Linked DNA regions of Homo sapiens. The protein of the gene in region 2 interacts with the protein of the main gene of each other region in a biochemical or structural test. Each region holds a gene or a part of one and is shown on either strand. Other genes may lie near its edges. The genes, in order: ROBO4, PPARG and TFAP2A.

Evidence for each region.
Region 1: the proteins of PPARG (region 2) and ROBO4 form a complex in vitro, tested with the Homo sapiens proteins (one study listed by BioGRID).
Region 3: the proteins of PPARG (region 2) and TFAP2A form a complex in vitro, tested with the Homo sapiens proteins (one study listed by BioGRID).

What each region holds. Positions count from the first base shown.
Region 1 is NC_000011.10:124,895,739-124,899,488, reverse strand, and holds the start of ROBO4 (roundabout homolog 4 isoform 1 precursor), read left to right. Parts: upstream 1-1,623; 5' UTR 1,624-1,693; coding exon 1,694-1,763; intron 1,764-2,227; coding exon 2,228-2,557; intron 2,558-2,818; coding exon 2,819-2,976; intron 2,977-3,170; coding exon 3,171-3,291; intron 3,292-3,576; coding exon 3,577-3,704; intron 3,705-3,750.
Region 2 is NC_000003.12:12,410,963-12,414,612, forward strand, and holds part of PPARG (peroxisome proliferator-activated receptor gamma), read left to right. Parts: intron 1-3,650. UniProt on the Homo sapiens protein: Nuclear receptor that binds peroxisome proliferators such as hypolipidemic drugs and fatty acids.
Region 3 is NC_000006.12:10,408,575-10,412,224, forward strand, and holds part of TFAP2A (transcription factor AP-2-alpha), read right to left. Parts: exon of another isoform or gene 3,023-3,650; coding exon of another isoform or gene 2,996-3,022; intron 1,762-2,995; coding exon 1,327-1,761; intron 1-1,326.

The DNA.
Region 1 (3,750 bases), on a different chromosome or scaffold from region 2:
TCTTGCTGTGTCCTGAGACTCCCGGGGTTTTCATTCCTCTCTAGCAGGTGGTAAAGGGATAAGGATTGGGATCCAGGGATAAGATTTAAATAGAGGATTAAGGCTCTGATTGGAGTTATGGTTAGTGTAAGGATACACCCACAGAATTTGGGGTAGGAATTGGGGCCAGAGAACAGAATTTGGGATTTCAGAATTAGAGGTGCCAAGGGTAGTGACATTCTGTTCTCTGGCCCCAATTCCTATCCTTCCAGCTCTGCCACTCCATGACTTTCACTCTGCCTATTCTTTAGCCTCTGCAAACTCCCCAGTTTGTAGAGACCATGGTGTTTCCTTGCTCCAGTTCTGTCTTTGTCAGTATTGGTCTGAGTTTGAGAGGAAAGAGGAGGAGTGAAGGAGACTTCTACTTGGCAGGCTGTTAGTCTGTGGCTGGCACCGAAGCCAGGATGGGAAGGGGGAGGAAGGGAGGGCGTCAGCTGGGTTAGGGGCCCTGCAGAGAAGCTGGCCAGGAACAATTGGGAACAAAGGCTGGATACTCTTCCGCTGAGCCCCAGAGCCTGGCCTTGGCCTTCCGGGAACAGCTCCAGGAAATGGCTGAGATTCCAGATTTGGAAGGAAGAGGCCAGTAAACATGAGCTGGGATCTGACAGGGGAGTGTGGCCTCTGTCTAGGTTGTGGGGGAAAGGAGGCAGCGGGCAAGAGCTGACATTGTAGGCTCAAAACCTGCAAGGCCTGTCTGCTACATATATGGACACAGGCTCTTGGGACTGGAAAGACTCTTAAAAGGTCTTTTACTCCAACCACCTTTCCAGGGCCTGAAAAATACTCCTGCCGAGGATCCTCCAATAGTTTCAGTGATGGGATGGGCCTAAAAAGAAATACACAATGTTGGCTCAGCTTTACGGATCACTCATAATGAGTCAGGCACTGGATGCCAGTGGTTTTATGCTTTATGTGTTTCATCATTACTTTATCCCTCAAGGTAGGAACTACTATTATTATTTCCATTTTACAGAGAAGGAAACTGACTTGCCCAAGTTCTCCACAGAAGCTTATTTCATCCATCTCTGAGCTGAATATGGACACACCCTGTGGTAATCTCCCAGCTTGTCCCAGATGCTGAGTCCTTCCTGTCTCCCACCCTACGCCACCTCCTGGTCCATCTGGCACTGGGGAAATGGATGAGGGTGTTACAATCCACCCCTGCTCCACTTCACTCAGCCTCCCCAGCCTGCAGCCCCACTGCCCTCTGTCTTCAGCTTCTTGCTGTGTCCTGAGACTCCTGGGGTTTTCACTCTTCTCTAGCAGGTGTCAAAGGGATAAGGATTGGGATCCAGGGATAAGATTTAAATAGAGGATTAAGGCTCTGATCGGAGTTTTGGTTAGTGTAAGGATACCCTGTAAGAAATCCCCGAGTAGATCATGAGATAAAGCTTAGCGCTGAAGTTAGGGTCGGGGGTTATAGCTAAATGGTCGAGGTCAGAGAGTTTCTCGCCTCTGGTCTCCTCCCAGTTCTCCAAGGCACTGAGGGCCAGGCAGGAAGCATCGGTTTCCTCAAAGCCGCTTCCCTCCTGGGGCAGAGTCTCGGTCACAAACAACCACCACCGGCCCACCCCGCCCCTCCTTCCCTCTTCACTGTGAGCTCAGAGCAGCAGGACAAAGTGCTCGGGACAAGGACATAGGGCTGAGAGTAGCCATGGGCTCTGGAGGAGACAGCCTCCTGGGGGGCAGGGGTTCCCTGCCTCTGCTGCTCCTGCTCATCATGGGTGAGTTGCTCTCCCTCTCCTGGCCCATGCTCCTCCATCCAAGGCCTGCTCAGGGCAGAAGGGGCCTGCTGACTGCCTGCTTCCCTTTTGCAGTGGGGGGACCAGAGATGAGGATGAGGATGATGATGATGAGTGTGTGTAAGTGTATGTGTGTTTGTGCATGTGCGCACACACCAGAGAGAGAAAGAAGGAAAGAGAGACTGAGAGAGAAAGAAAGAAAGAGAGAAAGTAAGAGAGAGAGAGAGAGAGAGAGAGCGAACATGCTATGCAAGCCCTGGCCTGGATGCTGTGCATGCTGGCCCTCTCTCCTCCTAGCTGGCTTGTTCTTTGGGAGGCAACCTTTAGTAGTTCAGATTACAGGTTTTCTGGCAAACTCGCACACAAGAGAAGACAGATGAGGGGTGGGCCAGGAATTTGGGGTGTTGCTGGTGATCAGACTGGGCTCTGCTCCCTTTCCCTCCCAGGAGGCATGGCTCAGGACTCCCCGCCCCAGATCCTAGTCCACCCCCAGGACCAGCTGTTCCAGGGCCCTGGCCCTGCCAGGATGAGCTGCCAAGCCTCAGGCCAGCCACCTCCCACCATCCGCTGGTTGCTGAATGGGCAGCCCCTGAGCATGGTGCCCCCAGACCCACACCACCTCCTGCCTGATGGGACCCTTCTGCTGCTACAGCCCCCTGCCCGGGGACATGCCCACGATGGCCAGGCCCTGTCCACAGACCTGGGTGTCTACACATGTGAGGCCAGCAACCGGCTTGGCACGGCAGTCAGCAGAGGCGCTCGGCTGTCTGTGGCTGGTGAGGCCTGGGAGGGGAGCTTCAGGGTGGGGCAAACCTGGGTGGAGACATCTGAGCTGAATGTTCAAGGGAACATCTGAGAGGTCAGTGGGATACCTGTGAGCAGAGGCCTGGGCTGGAAGGCTTGGGAGGGCAAGCTGGGGCGGGGCTGGCCCTAAATGGGAGGCCAGGAAGGTGGGCAAAGCAGAAGGGGGCAAGAGTGATAAGGGAGAGAGAAGAGGCCTGGGCCCTGCTCCGTGTCACCTTCCATCCTCCCCACAGTCCTCCGGGAGGATTTCCAGATCCAGCCTCGGGACATGGTGGCTGTGGTGGGTGAGCAGTTTACTCTGGAATGTGGGCCGCCCTGGGGCCACCCAGAGCCCACAGTCTCATGGTGGAAAGATGGGAAACCCCTGGCCCTCCAGCCCGGAAGGCACACAGTAAGTGTGGCCCCCTCCCCCACACTTCATCCTGGCCTGGGCAGACCTGGGTACACCCTGATGGACTGACCTGCCGTCCAGCCCCGCATCCTCCGGTAGAATTTGAGGAGGGGAGAGCAGGGGGCCTCAAACTTCCCCCCAGCTCAGAGCCCCTCCCCACATAGGAGACTTCACAGTGAACCTGGCCCTGACAGGTGTCCGGGGGGTCCCTGCTGATGGCAAGAGCAGAGAAGAGTGACGAAGGGACCTACATGTGTGTGGCCACCAACAGCGCAGGACATAGGGAGAGCCGCGCAGCCCGGGTTTCCATCCAGGGTAAGGGCAGGGGTGGGCTACAATCAGAGCCAGGCTGCAGGCTCCAGTTGGGGTGGTGTATTCTGGTTTGGGCTGGGGTTAAGGTATGTGGGGTCAGGGTCAAAGTGCTGGGGGTCTCACGTAGCGGGAGGTTCCCCCCTGCTAGAGTAGAAATCGGAATGCTCAAGACCTGGAGACTCTGGGAGTTTGGGTTCCCTGGGGTTCCTCCCTGGCTGAGGGATGTTCCACGCCTCAGTTCTGTCACTCTGGCCTATAAGCCCCAGCCCAGCCCTATCCTCCCCACAGAGCCCCAGGACTACACGGAGCCTGTGGAGCTTCTGGCTGTGCGAATTCAGCTGGAAAATGTGACACTGCTGAACCCGGATCCTGCAGAGGGCCCCAAGCCTAGACCGGCGGTGTGGCTCAGCTGGAAGGTGAGGACCAGGTGCTAAGGGTAAAAGCCGATCCAGAGCTCAAGAA
Region 2 (3,650 bases):
GGCTTAGGGACCCCAGTAGAAATAAAATCAGGATAGTAGTGCCAATTCATTTCTGGGGCTGCTGGAGAAGTTAGGCTTCTGGGATCATTCATCCATGTATCAATATTAATAAAATAAATTCTTCTATTGCCAGGACTGTCAGGAATAGCTAAAGATGTAAAAGATCTAAACCAGTGTGTTCTTTCAGAGAATAAGTTAAAAATAATATTTTATAGAGTTAAAAAGAAAAGCACTTGGATTTTTTTTTTCCAATGGCTGGACTCAGTTGGCCAATACCCTTGTTTGCCTGCTGAGTAACTCTTTGGCTGGCAATTGATTTTTTTAAGAGCTGTGGTTATGTGCTAGTTCATTAGCATGTGAATAATTCTTCATATTAAGTTTTCATTTGTTTGTCGTAAATCTCTAAACCCTGCAGGAAAGCAGAATATCTTTGACAGCTTTCAAACTTCACTTCTATCACACACAGCACTCCACCAGCACCTCTAGGAAACAGTGGTTCAAAAGGCCCTGCCCCAAGACCCCAGCATGTTAAGAGCGTTAGTTTAAAATCTCCAGTTCATCCTAGAACAATCATTTTAAAAGGAAAAAAAGAAGTGGGGAAGTCCTATAGAAAGCAATGGAAAGGGAAAAGTTCTCAACCCAGAATCGGGGCTTAGGTTCTAGTTCCTGGTTTGCTATAAATGGCACTTTGACTTTGGAATGTCTCTGGCTTCCGTTTATCCATTAGTCAGAGAATGATGGGACAGATTACTTCTGAAGACCCCTTATGTCCTATAAATCTCATAGTTCTCAACAAGAGGGAAACGGGAACAACAGGGGCAGAAACCAACGAGAGGCTGAGGAAACCAAACCAATGAGTTTTGGATTGTAGCTAACCGAGGAGAACCAGGTGTGTCAAAGGTGATGAAAGTCAGATGTGTAAAAAGCAAGAAGGAAACAAAATGAAGAACATGAGCCCTAAGAATTCAGTGTCTTTCCCTGGTAAAACTAAGAACATCAGGAAAGCCACACTCGATGAGGCACACATTTTTCCAAGCCAGTTTTCACTCTGACAGGGTTACCTCAAGTGATTGTTTGAGAGAGGGTAGAGGGGTTGACTACACTCATTCAATCTGCCAAATTAGAAAAGTCACCCAGAATACCCTGTGCTTTTTGAGTGATTTTCATGTTTATCTCCCGTAGCTTGCTATTTTGTTATTCAAAAGGAGTGTAAACTTAGGGCATTCATGTATAATACCTTTCATAACTCATGTTAAAATGCTGATGTTATTGGATTTCTCAGGAACACTACTGTTCTATTTCTCCATTCAAAAAGGTAAAAAAAAAATTAATTACTCTATTTTCATCATTAATCCCATTTCCCCCATTGTCTTTGTATTCTACATAGGAAGCATGCCATAGATCTATAATTGAATTTACTCATCTATATAAAACAGTACTTTTAATCCCATCCTGAAAATCAAAATATATTTTTGAAAATCAAAATATGTCAAAATTGAAAATCAAAATGTCAAAATATTGAAAATTGAAATATATCAAAATTAATTATATTTGATGTATCCCTCAAAAAATTGATTTCTCCTTACAGAAATCATTTTGCTTTCCTGGAAAAACACTGGGTTCAAGTGCAGCTTTCTTCATTCCGTTCTGGTCTGTCCAGTATATGAAAAGCACAAGCACACAATGACCAGTGACAGATTCACCATGAAGCTAATGAAGCTTCATGGGGCCCTTCCCTTGTGCAGAAGTCCTTCCAGTGCTTGGGGAAGGGCCGAAGCAATTTTATTCTCATAATTTGTAATATTTTCCTTAGAGAGACTCCACTACTGTGTATATTTTATGCCCCACAAAACCTGAATTCACCCCATCATGTCCCATTTGTAATTAAGCTTTCTTTCCTGTTAAGGAGGGACGCTTACCCAGCCCTTTGATGTACGGTCTGAAGATAAATACACTGTTAGCCCCCAACTAGAAGTGTAAAATCATTAAGACAAAATTTGAGAATGATACGGCTCCTATAATGGCAATCTTTGGATGATACTGTCCAAGCTGATGGAAAGTGTAAGGACTCCACTTTGCTTTGTAAAAAATACAAAAAAACAGCCATGGAAGTGCAGTACATTTTGTATGGAACATTGTACCACATTGTACCAAATGTCATGTTAAATTAATGATTCAAGATAAAATGCAGACCAAATTTGACCAGGGTTTTAAGAGGTTCTCTCTCCATAAAGCAGGCTGGCCACGATCTTCTCACTAGGTTTGAGGGTAAGGAGGTCCCCTGTGAAATATGAAAGTGAACTCTCTGCTATCTAAGAATTGGTGAATTGGTTGCAAAGAAAGGCAGACCAGGCCCACCCAGGGATCACTCTTGCAGTTTGACAGATCTACCTGGAGGCTGAAAGAATCTATGCAGCCTTCGGAAATGCAGTGAAAACAGTATAATCAGATATGACTAGGGAAAAAATAAAACAACTGGTGTTCATTTGCATGTCAACACCCAGAATTCTCTGCTAGTTCACCTCTTCTTCAGAATGCAGAAAGGATTGAAAAAGCTGGAATGGGGCCGGGCATGGTGGCTCATGCCTGTAATCCCATCACTTTGTGAGGCAGAGGTGGGTGGATCACCTGAGGCCAGGAGTTCAAGACCAGCCTGGCCAACATGGTGAAACCCCGTCTATACTAAAAAATAAAAAAATTTAAAAAAAATTGCCGGGCGTGGTGGTGGGTGCCTGTAATCCCAGCTACTCTGGAGGCTGAGGAGAATCACTTGAACCCAGGAGGTGGAGGTTGCAGTGAGCCTAGATTGCGCCATTGCACTCCAGCCTGGGCAACAGGAGCAAAACTCCATCTCAAAAAAAAAAAAAAAAAAAAATGAAATGGTTTGGCATGATGGTGGGGTGCTGATTCCTCTCTCTGTCCTTGAGTATTTACTGCCAGGAAATCCTGACCAACATCAATTGCCAAGGGGTTAAAGTCACATTGTTGTTAAATTGGGAGAGAAAATTAGCAGGATTTTGTGCCCTATGTTCAACTATTACAGAGTTTCAAAAACAGGAACCTGGAGCTTTATATGAGGGGACAGGGGAAGTAAAGGGGAAGAGTGACAAGGGTGATTTATCAGGGCATAGTTCCAGATAAATCACTTACATGGAGGTGAAAGAATTTCATGCATATGTTCTGTGCCAAGAAGCCAAATGGTTGAGCAGAAGCTCTGAAAGTTGAAGTGGGCAGTTCTGGGTACAGTCTTTCCACATGTGAAAAGGTGATGATTTTATATTCATGTTATTTGTACTCCTGCATGTGCAGTTGGTCTTTTCAGGTGTCCAGATCATCATTTTCTCATGACATGAAAGAAAGCCAATAAAGGCTAGTTGTGGTGGCTCACACCTGTAATCCTAGCACGCACTTAGGGAGGCCAAAGCAGGACGATCACTTGAGCCCAGGAGTTCAAGACCAGCCCAGGCAACATACATAGCAAGACCTCATCTCAAAAAATGAAATAATTTTTTTTTAGAAAAAGAAAGTAAATATTTCATTAATATAAATTATAATACACTGTAAAATGCCTGGAGGACAAGAAACACGTTTTCTCTAGGTTCTGTGAAAGCATCATTATCCATTCACATTTTTCTCATAATTAGAACCTG
Region 3 (3,650 bases), on a different chromosome or scaffold from region 2:
CAAAAAAATGCACTGTTAAGTATCAGTTTCTAAAAACATGTAAGTATGAACACACATATACAGACATACAGTGCTCACTAAACCTTATACTGGATCAAGTGCCCACTTTCCTGCCTTCCATGCAAGGGCTGCTAAACATAACCAACAAATTTCAGTGACTAACTGGGCCAAATGAGAGATGTAATAAATTTTCTATTTTCCTACGGAACTTAAATAATGTTTTAAATTCACCAAGCAAGGAGGTAAGTTCATCTGACCATTTTCCTTACAATCTAATGTAGTAATCATTAAACTGTCAACGGACATACTGCTGCAATATTTGATGCAGTAATTTGAAATAGCATTTTAGTAAAAATCACATCCAGATACATTTCCTCTCCAAAGAAAAGCAGCTTTAACAGAAGCCTTTACAGCTTTAATAAAATTATTGGCTTGCTCTAATTCCATTTCAGGAGGGTTGTGAGGAAACCATAAATATATAGAATTGAAGCAGAGGTACTGGTTTAAGTTTAATTCCAGAAAGTATTTTCAAATTATCAATAGCCTGGTTTGCATTGTAAATAGTAAATGTGCTAATGCCATGCTTATTTAGAAATCATTTTAAACTGCATTTATTGATAACTAAATTAGAACTCAAATAATGTATTACCCAATAGTCTCGAAACATTTAATTTAATATGGAGTGTAGCAGGTTCTGATAGGCGTTGGGAACCTAGCTAATGATTTATGAGGTCACCACTTAGCACCCCTAGTAAGAAGAAGGCTGCATTTTAATGTCCCTCTGCTTGGATTTGCTACTTAGTTTTTCTTTAATCAGGATAGGGTGTACACATAACTTTTAGGTTTCACTTGTGCTTATAAAATCCGGTTAAAATGATCTTAGTGTGTCTTTTACACTTCCTTTTACATTTTGAGGACATTTAATGAGCTCTTTTGGTTGCATTTAACATCATTCCCAGGACAGGGAGAAATCTCCACGCCAGACTCAGCGATGGAAGTAGATCTTTTAGCAATTGAGACAGTTTACTGTCGTCGAGAGGAAGATATTGTTAATGGTGACATTCGTCTGATTTATCTGTGTTGGTGGAAATGGTAATGCAGGCATTGTTTGAGGGAGCTCCAGAAACCATTGTTCTGGGGTAGAACTCGCAACTACTTTGTGTGGTTCCTCAAAACGTCCCTCACTCTCCGCCTCCGAATAAAATGTTTTTATAAGGAAATACTAGGGAGAACCCGGGCCCACCGACTGTATGTTCCAGGTATCCTTTCTGGGGTAGGTAAGTAGGGGGCTGTGTTCCCTCCCGCGCTGGTTGCGCGGCCTCTTACCGGGACCTCCTCGATGGCGTGAGGTAAGGAGTGGATCGAGAGGTCTCCGAGTCCTGAGCTGAGCGCGTGTGGGCCGTGCAGGAGGTCCTCGTGCCGCCTGTAGTCCCTGCGAGGATCCAGGCCCGACAGCTGGTGAGGCAGCCCCCGGTGCGTGTGCAGGAGCCCAGACTCCTGGCTCTGCCTCTGGCCGGGCCAGCCTGGGTGCTGCGGCTGCGGCTGGGCGTGCAGGGGGTTCAGGCTGTAGGGGTCGTTGACGTGGGAGTAAGGATCTTGCGACTGGGGGTAGATAGGCTGGTAGGGTGGGGGGAAGTATGGGGGCTGGAAGTCGGCATTGGGGGTGTGGGACAGCGGCGGGGCGCTCGTGTAGGGAGATTGACCTACAGTGCCCAGCTGGGGCAACCGTGCCGTCCCGTTGCTGGTGCCGTCGTGACGGTCCTAGAAGAGAGCGAGAGGAAAGGTAAAGAACAAGGAATCAGGCGTCGAGCTACAACTATCCACACAAAATCCACTTGACAAGTCTGCGTGGGAAATCGCCCGTTCCCGTTGGCTGGCCGCCGGGAAAAAATCAGCTCTAAGTTCTTTTCAGGAAATACCCTCAAGTGAAACAGACCGAACAACGCAGAGAAACTGTATATGGAGGGGGCACAAGAGACTATTTAGGGGTTTCTTTCAAAGAGAGGAAAAGATAGAAAAGGGTCTCCTGGAACACAGCCCATTAAACTGCAGCGTGAAATCTCTCTTAAGCAAAATTAAAATTCCTCCTAAATACTAAACAGCAGAAGCGGCCTTTTCTTTTCCCCCGATTTGAACCTGTCTGCCACTGCGTTATTGTTTATTCTCTTCCATTTATTTGGAGAGAAAAAAATCATAAACGTTCAAAGACTGTTACCGTTTCATGACTACTTAAATAGAAACATATTTCGCAGAGGGGCTGTAACAAAAACACACGTTTAAATTACCAGCTTAAAGAAGGTTTTAACTGCAGGATCGGGGTCTGTCTTTTTCGCTTCCTCTGTTAGGAGCCTTTTTCTCGACAGAGTCGATTTATGGTTTGGATAGGGAAAGGGGGACGTCAAGTCAAGGTTTAAAATAGAAAGATTCAGCCTTATTGGGTTTAAAAGAGAGAGGTGCACCCCGGGGCTGTGGCCCCCCCCCCCCGCCCCTTCCACCCCAGCCCCAAAGGGCAGAAGAAACGCCTGACTTTAGGTTTCTCTATTGCAATTCCCTTGCAAAACAAGCGAAGAGAGTTGATTCCAGAGACCGCGAACCCTCGGCGGTTCGGCCGCAGGTCCCGAGGGTAGGGGGCACACCGCGCTGCACTTTTCCTGCAGACAGTTTAAGCATCAAATGTTGAGAACATCTCGGGGACAAGTGAAGACTCAAGGAAATCAAGATGAACGTGGGGAGAAACACGCCTTGGGAAGCCGCGGCGAGGTAGGTCTGCGTGCTCGGAGAGGTCGAGCGGGGGCTGGGGTAGGGGGTAATGCACTCGATTTAGGGATGGAAAAGAGCGAGAGAAAGGCGGAAGGTGGGGTGGGGGATGCAAATGGAGAGGGTGTCCTGAAGGAAAGCTGGGCGTGAAACCCGAGGTTTCGGGCAGCTCCACGGCACCAGGTTTCCAGAATCCAATTCCTAAAGAAACAGCAACGGGGGTGGGGATGGGACTCACCATGGCTGAAAAACTGTGAACTAACATCTGCGAAGAGTCTGGGGTAACGAGTCAGGGTGGAAAAAAACAAGCAAGCCTGGAGCGCCCGGCTGCCCCGCCGCCCGAGCGCGCCCCACACAAAAGGCGCCGAGAGCCCCGCGCCACCCAGGACTCCAGTCACGGCGCCGACGCTCCCCGGAGCGCGGGAGCCCGGCTCGGATCCATCCGAACTTGAACCACCGATTCGCGCGGCGCCTTCAGCTGGTCGAACCCACGGTCTCTATCCTGCCGCGACTGGTTATGATTCAAAGTTCTTTAAAAATGAAAAACCCCAAAAAAGGAAAAAGGAAAAAGTATGTGTGAGTGTGTGGGTGCGTGCGTGTTCCTTAATCCGTGTCTCCCCCTCTTTTCTTAGCGGCGGCTTCGCTTGAGCTTCTAATAACCGCGCTGGGCAGCGTTCCTGGAGCCTCCTAATAGCAGATATTCATGACTATTAATATTACACGAATACTTAATAAGGGAAGAATGCCTGGAAATCGAGCGTGAAGCGGAGAGGCAACTCGCGCCGGAGCCGGCTCTCAATGCAGTCCATTGACGGGAGTCTCAGTGTAGCAAATCGGAGTGGGGAGAGGGAGCGCGAGAGACAAAAAGCGAGCGAGAGAGGGAGCGGGCGAGC